Linked DNA regions of Homo sapiens: region 2 is linked to region 1. Evidence: fine-mapped expression QTL. A gene starts in region 1. The other region holds a variant in brackets. All regions are shown on one strand. Distances are from middle to middle. Region 1 holds the start of LINC00466 (long intergenic non-protein coding RNA 466). Region 2 overlaps LINC00466 (long intergenic non-protein coding RNA 466).

What was found.
Region 2: its variant is fine-mapped to the expression of LINC00466 in tibial nerve (GTEx, PIP above 0.99).

What each region holds. Positions count from the first base shown.
Region 1 is chr1:63,314,819-63,320,193 of GRCh38, forward strand. LINC00466 (long intergenic non-protein coding RNA 466) reads right to left here and starts at 2,439. Exons shown (of 12, transcript NR_038252.3): 1 at 2,240-2,439; 2 at 1,131-1,269. RefSeq lists a silencer at 2,585-2,764.
Region 2 is chr1:63,194,603-63,199,977 of GRCh38, forward strand. LINC00466 (long intergenic non-protein coding RNA 466) reads right to left here. Exons shown (of 12, transcript NR_038252.3): 5 at 4,114-4,418. It overlaps LOC105378770 (a long non-coding RNA gene), which reads left to right. Exons shown (of 3, transcript XR_947454.3): 2 at 1,652-1,845; 3 at 3,830-4,107. Among named protein-coding and RNA genes, the nearest start is that of LINC00466, 120 kb to the right of the region's middle. RefSeq lists enhancers at 3,444-4,199, 4,200-4,954, 4,946-5,375, 5,028-5,375. The variant A/T (reference allele first, on the strand shown) is at 2,261.

The DNA of each region.
Region 1 (5,375 bases):
TTACTGATCGGGTTATTCAAGCAATATTTATTGAGCCACACCTCCACCCCTACACCACTAGTACTTGGCTGGAGGCTAGGGATACAACAGTGAACAGATAAAAATTCCTGCCCTTCTGGAATTAACATTCTAAAGGTGGAATCTATCTTCTTACTCACCTTTGTGGTTCCAGTGTCTGGCCCTTGATGAATACGATAAGGTTAGAAAAACAGCTGGGTCTAACAACTAGCCTTTTGAATATTTTCTTTTCAAAGGATCTTTTCCTTTATCTACGTTCCCTTTTAAATTTCTTCCATGTGTTTGTTAGTCAAATACTTCCATGTAGTCTAAATGTACTATACCTAGACAAAATGTCTAAGCAAATTTCAATTTTTACATTTCCCTTCTCTCTTCTTCCATCCCTTTCTGTTTCCTTATCATACATCTATTGTCCATTTCCCTTGAGACCAAGTACTTTCTGGCTGTCCAGAAGTACCATTAGGCATCCAACTTAGCACTTTCTTTTCCCAAAGTATCCCGGGTTCTAACTTACTTCTCCCCAATCTCCCCTGAAAACCCCTAAAGTCAGAGGTAGCTGGTCAGTAGCATCTTCCGTATTGAAGGCTTCACACTTTCTCTATCCCTACCCAGTGAGAAAGGCCCTCCTCTGCGCTGTTTCCCCTTGCCATGGCACCTATCAACCTGCATGACAAACACTGATTCTCTTGCCTGGTTCTTCCTTAAGGAACCTTGGGTTTAATTCTTCTTTTCATTCCTGGTACTTTCCAGGTCTACAACAGTTCAATAAATTACTAATAAGGAATAAATGAGTAAATAAATATATATTGTATACTTATATATCCTCTCCCCCTGAATTCAGCTGTGGGTATGACTTAAATCCAAGAAATTTTGGATTAAAATGAGAGTTACCAAAAAAGGCAGCTTTGACCCAAGGAAAACTTGTTTCTTTAAAAATGTTAGAAGAATTTAAATTTTTAAAATGTGTTTTGGCCTGGCAGGATGGTTCACACCTTTAATCCCAGCACTTTGAGAGGCTGAGGTGGGAGGATCGTTTGAGGCCAAGAGCTTGAGACTAGCCTGGGCAACAGAGCGAGATCCCATCTCTACAAAAAATAAAAATAAAAAATTACCTGGGTGTGGTGGTGTGCATCTGTACTCCCAGCTACTCGAGAGGCTAAGGCAGGAGGATCACTTGAGCCCAGGAGGTCGAGGGCTGCAGCCATCTACAATTGCACCACTGTACTCCAGCCTGAGACACAGAGTGAGACCCTGTCTCAAAGAAAAACAAAAAAATGTGTTTCGATATCCGCGATCCATGTCACATCTGTTAGTGTACCTTTAGTACATGACTTCTGCATTGTTTGCTAACTGACATTCTGTGTGAATAAAGCGTGTATCACAATGGTGTTTCCGTATGTTATCCAAGTGGGTCCTTTCCCCAGGATGTGAGTGAGCCTTTGGCATGGTCTTTTTAAGATTTTGCCAAGGGAAGACTGGGCTGGAACTAAGGAGCTAACATACCATTGAAATCAAATATCCCGTTGGGTGCACTGGAGGGTAGAGAAGAGGGGATTCCTGCACTCACGCTAAATGATAAACTTTTCCAAGGGCAGGGTCGTGAGAGGTCTTCCAGGTCACCTAGTGTTCTGAGTCATGCAGAAGTAGGAAATGGACACAATACTCCCCGCAGAGAATCCTTCCCACAGGACTGATCCTGTCCCTTCCTCCCCTCCCCCGCCCCACACAAGGCGGAATCCCCACGCAGTGCACTGCAGGCGCGGTGGCCACTGCCCCTAGAACCAGATCTCTCCCCCAGTCCCGTCCTCTCCAAGCTCCAGATATGTCAAGGATTCTTAAGCAGGGGTTTTCCAATCTGTCCCTTGAGGAACTACCCCTGAGGCAAGGCGGGCAGGCCCAAGCTGCGATGTGGAGAATTCGATGTCCGAGCGACCTCCTCGGAGGAGTGGGTCGAGTTAAATATAACCGCGCGAATGGAATGGCGCTAAAAATAAGGCAGCAGCTGGCCTGTCCACAGCCCTGTCCCGGGAGGGGCGGGGGCCCCAGTGGTCTTGGGCAGGAAGGCCGCGTCCGGCCCAGGGGCGAGAAGGCTGCGGCGTCCGCAGCCAGGGCTGGAAGGCCTGGGAGGCCGCGCTCTGTGGGCCCCGGGGCCTCCATTCGGGCTGGGTCGCGGGCCTGGACGGGGACTGTCCAGAGGCATCCGAAAGCCAGGCCAACTTGCCTGGACGTAACAAGACGGAAGGGCTGGGCGCTGAGGTCCTGCCAGCCCGGCCGCCAGAGGGAGCTGAGCGCCAGAGGAGGACAAGCCGAACCCTTCAGGAGGCCGGGCGTCTCCGGAGACCGAAGCGCCGGAGGACCCGAGGAGGTCTGCCCCGCGCGCTGCTCTGGAGACTCCCGGGGCGGGTGGCGCTCGGCCTTTCCGCTCCCTTCCTTCCCACAAGTCCCTTCCCGCGCGCGCCCCACGGCCCTGCCCGCCCTCCCGCGTCAGCGCCCCAACCGTCAAGCCAGCAATTGAAACGTTTCCAAAACGGTCTATTTATTTGCTCCCAATAAATCGATCGGCGGTGATTAAAGAATCGATGTGGCCTGGGTGGGCGAGTCGCTTGAGGGGAGGGATTGGGGGCTTTCGCCCGGCGCCTGCAGGGAGGCCGAGGGCGGGCGCGGGCCTGAGGGAGGCGTGTCCCGCCCGGGCCACACCCGAGGACCCGACACCTGGGCTGGCAGGCCCCGGCAGGCAGCGTTCCCTCCGGCGGAGAGGGGCGCGCGCCCGCCGCCTGCTTTCCTCGGCCCCTCTCGCCTTTCTCGCGCGCCGGGGAGGCTGTGGCCGCCAGTGGCTGCGGAGCTGCTCAGAGGCTTTTGTTGCTCCTCGGCCGGCTGAATGGGGATTTTGTAAAGCGGGACAGATAAAAATGAGCAGCATCATATTGTTTGACAGAATGATCTCGCATGATGAAGTGTCGGCTCCGAAGGGGGTGAAAATGGTGAATTCCTAAAAACCCAGCCCTGGGCTCCTCCTCGAGCTGCCGGTAGCCTGGAGGGACCCAGCGGACAGCCGGGCCTGGCCGCATCGCTCCAAACGGTGTCAGAAAGACTCCGGCTTTCAATGCCAAGTCATTTTTAAGCCCCGATCCTGTCCAGGACCTTTCTCCTCGTGGATGAAAAGAACAATTTTCGAGAGAAAGGCTCGTTTTTATTAAATCCGACATGCTGCTGATAACTCCATGCTAATGTGAAATAATTAACATAATAGCCATAATTAAAAGCACGCTAACAATGCCATAAATTTATCACACAATTTTACTAGCTTTCTGCCCCTAACTGCTCTCTCATCGTTAATTAAACGTGTTGCCTTTTACAGAATGGATGTTTATATATTTCCAATATAAATAAATTCGAAACCATCCTCTCTCTCTTCCTCTTTCTCTCCTCCTTTCCTTTTGGTCTCTCGCCATTTACAGGCACGCCTTGGCGTGGACCCTGAGTGGCAGACATCTTGAAAATAAATGAAGTTTTGAGATGCAAATCCAAACAAGAACATTAAAATAGCCTCTTTTTTTCCACCCCGAAAAGATCCGGAGAGGTATACAAGGGGGTAGTGGTGGGTAAGAGAGTTGAAAATCCCCCGCTTTGGGAAATGGAAGTAATCTGGGTGGGTTGGGGCCTTGGGTACCACCTCTGCCCTTTCCCACCTTCCTTGGTGGCGGCCATCCAGACAAAGAGGCCGGTAATAGTTTAACAAATCTATGAAGATTTTCAAGAAGCAGCAGACTTTGATTGTTGCGGGCGCGGGGGTGTTGGGGAGAAAGGAGGGGAATTTTTCTAATAGTCCCACCCACGTTTTGCTCCCTCTTGGACAAAGAGTAACTACTCTTGGTGGGGGACGCGCCCTTCACTCCGCGGAACCTGGTCCCAACTCCCCGTATTGTAAGAAAAGTGCACCCGCGCGCGGGCATGATGATTCTATCTCACATCGCGCCAACGACTTATTCAAGCCACTGGCACTGTCTCTGACTTAAAAGAGGAGAAAAGAGGCATATGGGTTCACTTGGGCCTGGTGAGGGGTAGGTGGGCAATTCCCGCCTTCCGCACTCTAACCGTGCCCCTCCTCCAGTGTTGACCACCTAAGAACCCAAAATGAGCTGTAATTAATTTCCCTTTCTCCATCATAAATTTTTCTATCCATTTCTTCCCCCCCATCCCCCCACTGGACGCACACACTAAATCTCCCCTCCCCTGGAGACGTCTCAATTTCCTTCCTATCGATCCGGACTCCATTCTTCTTGCCTCCTGTTGCTAGAACCTAGATCCCCACTCCCCGCACCCCTCATTCCCACCGCGTCCAGGTGGCTTTCCCAGCGGGGTACCATGTACTCTGCCCGCTCCAGAGGAACCGAAGGGGTTTCATTCCATTCTCCTTTGGTTGAAACATTTCAAACATTTGAGCAGGTGAGGCAGCTGGCTGCCATCTTCCTTTTTAAATCTCTCCTGGGAAGTTCGCTTGTTGAGACTCAAAGAGTCACTCAAACTCATAATTGCGTGTGTGTGTCTACTCATTCTCCCTCTATCTCTCCAATAACCCTTTGAGACTCAGAAACTTTTTATCCACATACACCCTTTATCACATTTTCTTCCCCCCACTACATGTGTCTCACTTTCTCTCTGTATCTGTCTCGCTTCTTCCGTCTCTGTCCTACAGCTTGGCGGTAACTGACGACCTGTGAGCTTTTAGCTGCAAACTGCAACTACGCGGCAAACAATTTATTTAGCCCGACATCTAGCCGGTCTCCGGCAGGACCCTGCACCGCGTCGGGATCGGACCCTTCCGCTGGGGCGGCCTCCTGCGTCAAGGCCAGCAGGAACCTTCCTGTCGCCCTCCCCGGCCGCCGCTTCGCCTCCTTCCCGCCCCCGGAGGTTGTGCAGGCGCTATGGTCCGCCTGGAGGGAGAAAGCCGGCGGCCGGTTCCTGAGCCGAGAGCGGCCGCGGAAAAATCCTCTGCCTCCGCTGGAAATCGATATTAGGCCGGCGCGGGCGCGGGACGTCGGGGCCGCAGCCAGTAGGTTGTGCACGTCTCATCATTTAGCTAATCGAGTCGAAAAGTTTCTGTAAGGGCCGGACCCAGCATCAGATGGTAACACTGATTGAACAAGAGATTAGCACAATAGATCTCTAACCGAGGGGAAGCGTTGCTTTTCACGCTACGCGCCGTAATTAATGGTATGAATCAATTAATTTGACTTTTATTGTGTCGAAGGAAAAAAGCGCAACAAATGGAACCGGCAGCTGGGAGTTGTTCGTCCTCCACCCCCTTCCCCAGGGAGGTTCCAAGGAGACACCGGGGAATGGACGGATCAGGCTGG
Region 2 (5,375 bases), 120 kb before region 1:
CCAGCACTTTGGGAGGCTGAGGCGGGCGGATCACTAGGTCAGGAGATCAAGACCATCCTGGCCAACATGGTGAAACCCTGTCTCTACTAGAATACAAAAAATTAGCCAGGCGTGGTGGTGCACACCTGTAGTCCCAGCTACTCTGGAGGCTGAGGCAGGGGAATTGCCTGAACCTGGGAGGCAGAGGTTGCAATGAGCCAAGATCACGCCATTGCACTCCAGCCTGGGGACAGAGCAAGACTCTGTCTCAAAAAAAAAAAAAAAAAAAGTAAGTTGCTATTATCACAATCCAGTTGGAGAAAAAACATCTTATTTTATAAGACCATAAAATAATATGTAATAAGTGCAGCCCTCTGGCATAGTGGTTAAGAGCACAATATGCATTCACCTTTTTAAGGTTCTGGGGATAGAAGTGAAGAAGACAAAATGATTCCTGCTGTCATGAAGCTTCTACTCTGGCCTTCTCTCATAACTGCTACTCTTACCTTAAAAGCCCTGGACACTTCCTAAGGCTCTACATAATTAATAATAACTGCTATCACTTAGAGTATGCTTACTAAGATTAGTGTGTTTGATCCTCTCAACAACCCTATGAAGAAGGTAGCATTACTGTCAACCCTATTTTCCAGCTAAGAAAACTAAGGCACAGAGAAGATCACACAGCTAATAACTAGTAGAACTGGCTTTGTACCCAGGCAGTCTGTCTACAAAGCTCATATGCTTAGCCAACATGTGGGAGGATATCAAGGTCTTGTGGGACATGAAGCTTATATAATTCTAGGAGCTCTCTTTGAGAAAAAAGAATACAACACTACAAACACAAAACTAGGTACAGGGCCTTGGAAGGGGCCCATGAAAGAGTTACATTTTATAAGATTCACAGTAAATCTGCCTTTAGCTTCATGGTAAACCCATCTGTGCCTCTATGCAATACCCTAAGCATGAGCTCTGTTGTTATAATAAAGACTGCCCTAACCCAAATACCTAGAAGGTGGTTGAGTGAAGACAGCATGAAAATAAGCATTATCATTTTCCAAATGTGCAACTGTAGATAGGACTTTCTGGTGCTCCACGCCAAGTCAGTGAGCATTCATAAAGCACCAGCTATATGCTGAGCATTATGCTAATATGCTAACCTGCAGAAAATACAAAAGCCTATAATCCCAGCACCTTGGCAGGCCGAGGCCGGTGGATCACCTGACGTCAGGAGCTCGAGACCAGCCCGACTAATATGGTGAAACCTCATCTCCACTAAAAATAGAAGAAAAAAAAAAAAATTAGCCAAGCGTGCTGGCGTGCACCTGTAGTTCCGGCTACTCAGGAGGCTGAGACAGGAGAATCGCTTGAACCCAGGAGGCAGAGGTTGCAGTGAGCCAAGATCGCACCACTGCACTCCAGCCTGGGTGACAGAGCGAGACTCCATTTCAAAAAAAAAAAAAAATGTATACATATCTGTAGATATACTCTCAATGAGCTAGTTTATGTGTCCAGCACTATATAAATGCAAAATGAGACTGATACAACAGTAGCTGCCCTTGAGAAATTGAAATAACAAATAAGCACTTAATGTTTATTATGTAAATGGTATTCCTATAAACGGATTATAATTTGTGAGTTAGATACTAACATTACTGTCATCCTTATTTTACAGAGGGAGAAACAGATCAAGGAGTGGCAAAGCTTGGATCTGAATTCAGATGCGCTCATTCTCAAGCCGTATTCTTAACCACTCTACTACTCTTCTCCAATTGTTTTGGAAATATGAAACAATTGGAGATCTGAAGCTTCAAAACTCCTACCAACCACCATCTCCTTCGTGAAGCCTTCCCTGCCCACCCCAGATAGGTCAGGTTTCTCTCCACATAGCTTTCCACATTCTCCTCTCTCATAGCTGTATTAATAAGTCCCTGTTGCCTCCTTTCTTAGACCATAGGCTTCTTGAAGGCTATGTCCCAAGAACCTGGTAGGTAATCAACAAATATTTGAGAAATCAATGAATAAATGAGCAACACATGTTAGGGTATGGTCAAGTGGTCTGTTGGTGCTATGGTAAATAATTTACCTGCTGTAGGTTTTAAGTGAGACTTGAGCATGAAAGTAAGATTAGAAAAGTGGAAGGGAAAGGAAAATATTTCAGGGGATGGAAACAGCCTGAGCACAAGAGCAGCACTGGGAACGATCATGTCATGAAAAATGCATTTGTTTCCCACTGCTTCTGTAATGAACTACCACCAAATGAGTGGTTTAAAACAACACACAT[A/T]TATTCTCTGATAGTTCTGGAAGTTAGAAGCCTAAAATCAAAGTATCAGCAGGGCTGTGTTCATTCTGCAGGCTTCAGTGGATAATCTGTTTCCTCACCTCTTTCAGCTTCTGAGGCCACTCACATCCCCAGACTTGTGGCCCCTTCCTCCCATCACTCCAACTCCTTGCTTCCATAGTCTCATCTTCTGCGACTGCCTCTGACTCTCCAGCCTCCCTCTTAAAAGGACCCTTGTTATTATTACTATTGGGCCCACTCAGACAACCTAGGATAAACTTACCATCTCAGGATCCTTAACCACATCCTCAAAGTTCCTTTTCCTATGTTAGGTGATGTATTCACAGGTTCCCTAGGTTCTGGGGATTAAGATGTAGACATCTTTGGAAGGCCAATATTCAGCCAACCACGAAAGGGAACAGTAAAAGCACAGTGCAGGCTCTGCAAAGGTTCTGTCTCTGTAAGGCCACAGGGTAAATGGATAGAACGTGGGCCAGGCTTCTTTCCAGGCTCAGGCGTCTGGACCTTTTCTGATAGACAACAGAGAGCCACCATAGAGTGTTAAGAAGGATCAAGTCACTAAGAAAATGATGTTTTTAAAAGATTTATTTGGCAACTGTGTTTACTTGCTTCAATTGAAACCATCTTTTTTCAACATGGTAATAATAACTGGTTGTATATAGGGTTTTATTTTTATAAAAGTTTCACATATAAACCTATCTAGGAGGTATTATTATCTCTATTTTAAAGATGAGGAAACTGAGCTCAGAGCAGTTGAGTGACTTTTTACAGAAGATTTTATATACATACCCTACACGTGACAGAACAGAGCTAGATACTTTGAGGAGGCAGTGCTGTGCCTGCGGTAAGTTTCTGCTTACCCCCGTAAGTACAAAAGGCTTTGGAAGCTGACCAGAGTCCAAATATTAATTCTGCCCTTTACTCACTATGTGACTTTGACCAAGTTATATCACTTCTCTAAATTTCATTTCCCTTATCTATAAAATGTGACTAATAATAGTGCCTGCCTCACAGGTTTTATGAGGATTAAATAAGATAATGCTAGTAAAGAAAGTACTTGGCATAGAGCAATCGATAAACAGTAGCTACTATTATTATAAATACCACCTCCTTTCTATAACATTTCTCTCAGATGAGACCATCTAAGATTACACTTTAGATCAGCTTACATTTCAACACAGGAAGATTCAAAACTGAATTTAAAAGAAGCTACTGAAGATAGGTTTCACAGTACCTTCTAATACATGAGCTTTCTAGTTCCTCTCAATTAAAAAAAAGTAAATGTCTTCATAATATGTATTAGACAATGCCCTAAAAGTATGTTAATAATTTAAATTCCAACCCTCTGCTGTTTTCAATGTAATATTCTGTAAACCATAGTTATTCTTCAATCAAGGTCTGATTTTGTTTGGATGGGTTACATTGTGAAAGACCAAATAAGGTACATGGAGTTTTGCGGTCAACCTGCATGAATTGGTTTGTAAACTTCACTGGACAAGCAAGCACTTGCCAAGTGGTCTGAATTAACCTTTACTTTGTGCCCATCTCTAGGAGGAATGAATGAACACCAGTAGTCTGCTGGCCTGCCTGGTCTGCCTGGTGTCTGGCATCCAGAGACTTTTCCTGGCTGACCTTTTGGAGAATGTCCAACATTGAGAAAATGGAATCCAAAAGAAGACACAGAACCGGGCTCCATGTTTTCAGAGACTGCACCACATTGGTCATTGGAGTTAAATGTGTTCATATCCATCGGCTCTGTGCTCTGTCACGCAAAATATTAAAATGAAATGCTAGGAGAACAGTTTGAAGCAATCCTTCCTGTTCTTGAAACTCACCTTTAGCTGCTGAGAACGCTGGTAATCCCTTTGTAGCTTACTGGGGGCACATTTATCAGTGAGGCAGCTAAGCCAATTGTAGCTGCATTCACAGGTGACCGTGCTGTCTGCCTGCCTTCCCAGAGATACAAGAAACAAAACCAAACTGATAGAGAGGATCTGGCATTGCAAATTCACCCAAGAGAGGAGCCCAGGCCAGACTTCTGTTTTTATGGACAGGAACATTCGGTCCTCAGCAGACTTGCCTCTGAATTCACAGGCTCCTCTTACAATGCAAGCCACAATTCTGAAAAATAAAAGGGGATCTCAAGCAGAAAAAGAGATTACAAATAAGGATCATTCAACAACAATAACCAAAACATAAACCCTGGCAACCACTGTGCTAAGCAGCCCTGGCGGATGCCAGTCTTGCCTTCTCAGTTCCTGCTCTGATCGGTAGCACAACAAATTATCTAGTTTCCTAAATCCAGTGGGCTCTGACCGCAGACACAGGAGAGCAAGCCGCATTTAAATGTGAAAAGCTGTTACTGATAGAGCCCTCCTGGCATTTACAAAAAGTACTTTTTACATATAAAAAGCATGTTTGGCAAATTCCGCTGTTTTTGCTGCTAAGTTATACAACGTTGTAACAGACAACAAAAAGCAACAAATTAACACCCATCTTCCCATTAACAAATGACCCCACCCATCCCTTCATAGGTTTTAGATTTCCTTTAGAAATCAGAGAATTTGAAATGAAAAAAAAATCCCATTACTGTTCTGTTGCTCCTAAAACACCTCTTTTTTTAAAAAGCAATAACTAAAAGCATTTTTTAAAAGTCAAAATCACAATAAACTGTTAGGCTCAGATCACGTCTATAGTAATGTAAGTTATTTCCCTTCTCTTAAGACGTTTACCTTTTTCCCCCCATTTAGCCTGTTTTTTTTACAGTTCAATACATATTTTTCCAAGCTCCACTTGCCAAACAAAAGAGTTTAGCCTCAGTGTTACTCCTCTGACAAATATCCTTATGGTCTTGCACATGTGAGAGCCATTGATAAACAAATTAAAATTCTGTCCCAGCTCAGAGCTCAGCTGGCCCATTTTATCTTGCAGTATGGGTTTGTAAAGGTCTGGGTGTCTGTCATCCTCCCCTAACCTTGTCTTTGTCAAAGGGATACAAAAGCCTGCCCGCTCGGGGCCCTTACGATACTGATTAGTGTGAGTGACAAAGTGGTGCTGCAAGTCCACTCAGCCTTTCATAATAAATCTATCAAAGAGT